Linked DNA regions of Homo sapiens. The protein of the gene in region 2 purifies or fractionates together with the protein of the main gene of each other region. This does not show direct contact. Each region holds a gene or a part of one and is shown on either strand. Other genes may lie near its edges. The genes, in order: NEK9 and CIMIP6.

What was found.
Region 1: the proteins of CIMIP6 (region 2) and NEK9 purify together in Homo sapiens (affinity purification with mass spectrometry; one large-scale study listed by BioGRID and IntAct). This does not show direct contact.

What each region holds. Positions count from the first base shown.
Region 1 is NC_000014.9:75,120,227-75,124,048, reverse strand, and holds part of NEK9 (serine/threonine-protein kinase Nek9), read left to right. Parts: coding exon 1-3; intron 4-2,874; coding exon 2,875-2,930; intron 2,931-3,468; coding exon 3,469-3,539; intron 3,540-3,822.
Region 2 is NC_000002.12:54,337,330-54,341,151, forward strand, and holds part of CIMIP6 (ciliary microtubule inner protein 6), read left to right. Parts: intron 1-3,822.

The DNA.
Region 1 (3,822 bases), on a different chromosome or scaffold from region 2:
ATGGTAAGATAGAGTTCAGTGGGACTTTTCCAGCAAGACTTTCTTAGACTCATAATTACGTTGAGGAGAAGAATATAAGAAGAGACATATACAGTGATAAAAACTTTAAATGAATTTCTAGAGTTTAAGAGAAACTTTTCAGGCCTTGGAGAATTTTTGAAGTGGTGTACGAAATAAGGAGAGGGATTTTCCCCTGCATACCCAAATTTTCTCTTGTGATTACAGTTCCATTTTCAAACTATCTTTTCTTTGGTTGGATTTTACCTTTATTTTTCAAGGTTTTTCTTTATGAAATGACATTAGTTAACCAGAGTGTGGCTTGGCAGCACTTGATACAGTATTTAATAAGATCTTATAGGTGATATTTATTTATATTGTCTTCAGCTAAAGCTATCCTATTGAAAAGTGGTCCAAAGATCATAACTGAGTGAAAGTAATATATAGTAAAGCATGGCCCTATTTATCTGGTCCCTGATTTCTTCACATCATTTTGCTTGTAAGATAGCAATATAGCCTAGTTGTTAAGAAAATAGACTCTAAAACCAAGTTTCTCTACTTTCTAGCTCTATAACCTTGGCAAGAAACTTAACTTCTCTGTGCCTCAGTTTCCTCATTTTATTTTTATTATTATTATTATTTTTTTTGAGATGGAGTTTTACTCTTGTTGGAGTAAAGGCTGGAGTGCAATGGTGCCATCTTGGCTCACCACAACCTCCGCCTCCTGGGTTCAAGCAATTCTCCTGCCTCAGCCTCCCAAGTAGCTGGGATTACAGGCATGCGCCACCACGCCCAGCTAATTTTTGTATTTTTAGTAGAGACAGGGTTTTGCCACGTTGGCCAGACTGGTCTCGAACTCCTGACCTTAGGTGATCCGCCCACCTCCGCCTCCCAAAGTGCTGGGATTACAGGCTTAAGCCACCATGCCCAGCAGTTTTGTCATTTTAAAATGAGTTTGTTGGCCAGGGACAGTGCACACCTGTAATCCCAGCGCTTTGAGAAGCCAAGACAAGCAGATCACTTGAGCATAGGAGTTTGAGGAAAGCCTAGGCAACATAGTGAAACCCTGTCACTACCAAAAATACAAAAAATTAGCTGGGTGGTGTGCACCTGTAGTCACAGCTACTTGGGAGGCTGAGGAGGGAGGATGGCTTGAGACTGGGAGGCAGAGGTTGCAGTGAGCTTGTGAGCTCAGACCGCTGCACTCCAGCCTGGGCGATGGAGCCAGACCCTGTCTCAAAAAAAAAAAAAAAAAAAAAAAAGCTGGGCGTGGTGGCTCACGCCTGTAATCCCAACACTTTGGGAGGATCACAAGGTCAGGAGATCGAGACCATCCTGGCCAACATGGTTAAACCCAGTCTCTACTAAAAATAACAAAAATTAGCTGTGCATGGTGGCGCGTGCCTGTAATCCCAGCTACTCGGGAGGCTGAGGCAGGAGAATCGCTTGAACCAGGGAGTTGGAGGTTGCAGTGAGTGGAGATCATGCCACTGCAGCCTGGTGACAGAGCGAGACTCCATCTCAAAAAAAAAAAGTTTGTTGATAACAGTACCTACTTTCTAGGATTGTTGTATTACATGCATAGTGCTTGGTAGGTAGAAAGTGTTTGCTACATACTGTACTAGCTGTTAATCATCTTATTGCACAGGAGAACCTCCAAAGCCCTTTTCTGAACTGCATGCTAAAGAGGTCCCAGCATATTCGTCACTTACGACTTCCTTGTGTAAACTCTTGTATATTATGATCATTGGTGATCAATGCCATATACAAGATTCTGTTAAAAATTTTCGAAGTAGCAGAAGCCCTAGGTAGTTAACTTCTTTTGTGGTTAGGAAGAACTGGAACAAATGATACATTTATTGAAACTGAGTTATTAAGTTGCAGGGGAAAAGAAGTTGTAAAAACTTACCCAGGGCTAAAGTGTAAGTTATAGTTGCAGGTGGGATGTAAGATGAACCATGATTACTTGCAGTCTGTATTACTTGGTAAAGGAAAGAGAGAAGTAAATTCACACTTATTCCACAGGAAGAAATTAGTAAAGAGAGTAATGATAGGAAACAGTCTAGGGGTAGACCCTAAATTTTGGGAAATATTTCGGTGTGAAGTAGAAAATTTGTCAATATATACCCTATAAATACAAAACATTGCATCACAGGTGTAACCCAATTTTTTTCTTTTTTTCCTGAGATAGACTCTCACTGTCACCCAGCCTGGAGTGCAGTGGTGCGATCCCAGCTCACTGCAACCTCCGCCTCCCAGGCTCAGGCGATCCTCCCACGCTCAGGCGACCCTCCCACCTTAGCCTCCTGATTAGCTGGGACCACAGGCACATGCCCCAACAGCTGGCTAACTTTTTGTATTTTTGGTAGAGACAAGGGTTTTGCCGTGTTGCCCAGGCTGGTCTTAAATTCCCAAACCCAAATGATTTGCCCACCTCAGCCTCCCAAAGTGCTGGGATTATAGGCGTGAGCCAATGTGCCCAGCCTAATCCAGATGTTATAGTAGTCACAACTGGGAGAGTTGTTACAAAAATATTGTAGAGTCCTTAAAGGAGAGTTCTAGAAAAGAAATCTGATTTTGAATATACTTCACTTGTTGGGAACAACAAGAATGGTCTTTACTCACATCTTTTCTAAAAATGTCTTTTTTTTAATTACGCCTCTTGTGTTAGAGAGGGAGATCTTTGAAGAATATTTCTGATGCGGTCCTTGAGAGATGGGAAGAGTTTTGTGCCCATGTGAAAAGTCAAAAGAAGTAGTTGCCTATGGAGAGAAAGCAGAATCCTTCATTTCCTTGTGTCACCTAAAAAAACCTGTTACAGGAGCCAAGCTTTGATCTGTATTAAGCAATTCAAATCTGTGTCTTGTTTAATTGCAGGAGGGAACCTGTATGACAAAATCCTTCGTCAGAAGGACAAGTTGTTTGAGGAAGAGGTAATTCATATTTCTGTGGAAGGAAGTTAGAATTGTAGTGTTGTAATTCTTGCATTCTAGTTCTGTATTTACTCTTCCAATAGTGAAGAGTGTTTTTTTCCTTTTGTTCAGACTCCTTCCAGGCTCTGATATTCATGAGAAAGGAAACCTCTAACAAGGAAGCTGTCTATAGCTGCTTCCTAAACGTTTTACCTCCACATCATGATTCTCTGTGGGCTTTCTTTCCTGGTTCTATTACTGCGTACTGGTATGCCCAGTTTTCTATAACTTTGCATTCTTCCTGAATTTTCCTACATGTCTGCTTTACCATACTATATATTATAATGACATTGGAACTATTTTATGAGGAACCTGTTTTTTGTGGTTTTTTACCCCTTCACTTTTCTTTGCCTACTCAACCTGCAAGGAAGAGATGTCAAGTCATGTTGAATCATAACTTCTGGTTGCAGTTTTCTTTGTTTTGTTTGTTTATGTGTGTGTGTATTTACTTAAATGGAGCTTTTTGTTTCTAATCCAAATATTTATTTTTTCTCTGCAGATGGTGGTGTGGTACCTATTTCAGATTGTTTCAGCAGTGAGCTGCATCCATAAAGCTGGAATCCTTCATAGGTAAGAAGTAAAAAAAATTATGGATGGATTCTTCCCTACCAATTCAGCCCCTACCGTGGATACCCCCCCAACAACACTTTTATTTTCTTGGTTAAGCAGCCAAGAGTTTTTCCATTGATATCACTAGGAAAGGAAAGTAATGAGCAATATTATTTTCACTCCCTGAGGTTAAACCATGTTTATGATCTAGGAAGAGTCTCCTCAGTAGCCAAGTACTACTGAAGTCATTTTACAGACAAAAATTTTAGAGTTCAGTTTGTTAATTCATCAGTAAAGCCTAGAA
Region 2 (3,822 bases):
ACCCCTTTAAGGGCCATATTGAGGGTACTTCATTTTGTACACTTGCTTATGCTCTCGTACCAATTATTTCAGAAAGAAATCAATTGTTATTGTTAGACCAGACCTACACTGGGGAAATTAATTTGGTACCAAAATCCAGATTAGTGAAGTTCTTACATTTCTTACAAAGGCTCATGAATGACTCTGAGCTCTAGTTCAGGGTTGAATTTAAAACTGTTCACTGAACTCATCCTTACATTGGCAATACTAAGAAAAAGAAGCTGGTTTGAGAATAGAAATATGAAACATAAAAGTTTAAAAACTTAATCCCAACTAATTTTCTCTTACTCCTACTCTATAGGTATGTTGGAAAAAAAATGAACAAAGGTGTTAAGAGCTGCTATCATCAAGACTAGGTGACAGAATAGTAGTAGAATCATTATTAGCACTGGACCTTTAAGAGATGGTGAAAGTGAGTTTGAGATGAAATAAGAGCTCAGATAAGGGAATCTGTCAGTGAATATGAATGAGGAGAGTTACAGAGAAAGACTGAAGATACATCACTGAGTTACAAGCATGTCTGATTTGGGTGTGGCAGGAAGGGAGTGTGTATATTTTAAAAACATAGCCTGGGCAACATGGTGAGACCCCATTTATACAAAAAAATAAAAATAAAAAAATAGCTGGGTGTAATGGTGTACGCCTGTGGTCCCAGCTACTTGAGAGGCTGAGGCAGGAAGATTGCTTGCACCTGGGAGGTCAAGGCTGCAGTGAGCTATGTTCATGCCATTGCACTCCAGCCTGAGTGACAGAGTGAGACCCTGCTCAAAAGGAAATAAAATTGGCTGGGCACAGTGGCTCACACCTGTAATCCCAACACTTTGGAAGGCCAAGGCAGGAGGGTAACTTGAGCCCAGGAGTTTGAAACCTTCCTGGGCAACATAGTGAGACCGAGCGCTACAAAAATAAATAAATAAATAGCCAGGTGTGGTGGCAAGCCTCCGTAGTCCCAGCTACTTAGGAGGCTGAGGCAGGAGGATGGCTTGAGCTCAGGAGTTCAAAGCTGCAGTGAGCAATGATTGTGCCACTGTGCTCCAGCCTGTGCAACAGAGCAAGACCCCATCTCTAAAAACAAATTTTAAAATAATAAAATAAAAACCAAAAACAATGAACTTAAATGTACTCATTTCTAACTATCCAAGAAATAATAAAGAATGTATATTTCACATATTTGTAAACTGTTCCTTTAAGATGACAGGTTTCTTTTTAAAGGTTAGCCTGGTTAAGAAAAAAACTGGTTGACGGTAATGCTGTCTTTATAATAAGAGTAAAGAAAATAAACTTGCCTAAATATTTTAAATGACACCTGTTGTTTTAAGTGTTTTTGCTAAGATAATATCTTTAGGATGCAAGACGAGATTGGTTGGTTTTATTTGTTTAGAAGATTTTTAAGATTTCGTACATTTCTACCTAGGAACATAAAATTGGGGATGCTAAAAAAAGTAAGTTGTTTTAGCTCAGTCACTTCCAAAGAAAACTGGTTTGATTGTCTTATATTTTTGGCTGGGTGCGGTGGCTCATGCCTGCTATCCCAGCACTTTGGGAGGCTGAGGTGGGCAGATCATGAGGTCAGGAGTTCGAGACCAGCCTGGCCAACATGGTGAGACCCCCCCCCATCTCTACTAAAAATACAAAAAATTAGATGGGCATGGCGGTGCGTGCCTGTAGTCCTAGCTATTTGGGAGGCTGAGGCAGGAGAATTGCTTGAACCTGGCAGGCAGAGGTTGCAGTGAGCCAAGATCGTGCCACTGGACTCCAGCCTGGCAACAGAACAAGACTCCATCTCAAGAAAAAATAAAATAAAATAAAATAAAAATATTTTTAAATATTGGTACTTTAAAGGAGATTATACTAGGTTGGTATTTTCAAAAGTTTAATTTTCAGAGCACTGACCCTTGCCTACATGCTTAACAAAATAAATTTGCAAAGTCAAATATGTTTTGGAAAAGCTGTATTTTTATAAACCTTTCTCAGAGCTTCACAATTCACATTGGTATATAAAGGTTCTGAGAAATCTTGTGATAAACTTATTTAACTTTGCTTTTCTCACTATTTCCCAAAGTCATTTAACTGTGGACTCCTTTGTATAACACCTATTAATATGCTGGAGAACTAGTGTTCCACAGAACACAATTTTGGAATTTTTTATGGGGGGGTGCATTATGAACTGCTTAAAAACATTTTTTTAAAGCACTCATAGCATCTATAGCAAAATAGAGATGAATTTAGGTACAGTGTAACCAATGTGACCTTAGCTGCCCTAGTGTTTGTGATAGTACTTCAATTTTTTAAAGCCACTGAGCTCTACCAACAAAATGCGATTGTTTATGTTTAGGTTTTGTCAAAAGCCCACATTTCCTTGGGAATCCACAAAGTATGATTTTATGTTCCACAGATGACCACCACCAGCCATCTTGGCTACGCGATTGTGGCTGTGGAGCTTGGCTTACGACCTCTTGCATTCACTTAACTAGTTCCTCTAGGATACTTCACTTGCTTTTTACTACTTCTCCTCTGAGGATTCTCCCTTAATTTCTCAAAGAATGGAAAATAGGTAATCTTTACTAAAACATCTCTGAGAGCTTAGGGATACTAGGAGTATAACATAGAGACTGCCTTACACTGGCTTCCAAATGTGACTAAGGGACCCACAGTGCAACAGCCCTTGGCCTTCCCAGAGCTGCAGGTTAGAAGGAGCCCCGTCATCCGGAATCTCCAGGCAACTCCTGACCATGGAACCCAGTGACTATCATCCTGGGGCAGGAAAGAAGACAGTCCTTAGACTGGTAGGGATAACTCCTCTCTGGGTCCAAAGTTTGAGTTAGGCAAAACCCCCTCTACAATCTGCAAGATATGATCTGTTCCCCAGAGCCTAGACAAAGCCATCACGCTAGGTAACTTCCCAGCTTATTTTGTCATAAATAACTGTGTTAACCCCCCACAATCCAATGTAAGTGATGGTACACAGAACAGTAAATTTTTTGTTAGTCTTTCCCTTCAGTATGATACAAAGGTAAAGACGAGGCTCCATCCATGTCTTTCCTTAATCTCATAATCTTTTATGAATAAATGCTTGGACCAAAAGGGCACGCACATGTTGCATGGGCACATAAGCACTTTCACTCTTCCAGGAACAAACCAAACTTTTTAGGCATAAGGAAGACTATCCAGAAACAAGAAAGACAACCTTTTTTTTTGGACTGTAAGATTTCACTCAGCTAAAGTGAAGATGCATCCAATTTATAACACTCATCAGAACACTTTCACAAACTGCAGAGCCTTAAAGTCACCAGTCACATTTTAGGAAAAACTGTTCTCTATTTCCTTTATGTTTGTGAAACAAAGACTATTTTGGCAAAATTCTCAGTTTAAAAGAAATTTGCTCAAAAGATGAAATTATCTCTCTGCTCTAAGGCTAGCTTTGCATTATGCTTTTAAGAAAAAAATATAGCCAGGCGTGGTGGCTCATGCCTATAGTCCCTGCTACTCAGGAGGCTAAGGTGGGAGGATCACCTGAGTCCAGGAGTTTGAGGCTGCAGTGAGTTGTAATCGTACCACTATGCTCCAGCTTGGGTGATGGAGTGAGACCCTGGCTCAAAAAAATAATAATAACAAATAATAATAATTAAAGTCCATCAGCCATTTCCTAGTGGTTCGCTTATCCCAGAGCCATTTTTCCAGTAACTTGAGTATTAGCAAAATAAGTTTTTGATCAACAAAAGTAGATGATATGAAGTGTTTGTGTATGCTTTACAATCTTATCACAGAAGAACTTTCTCAGAA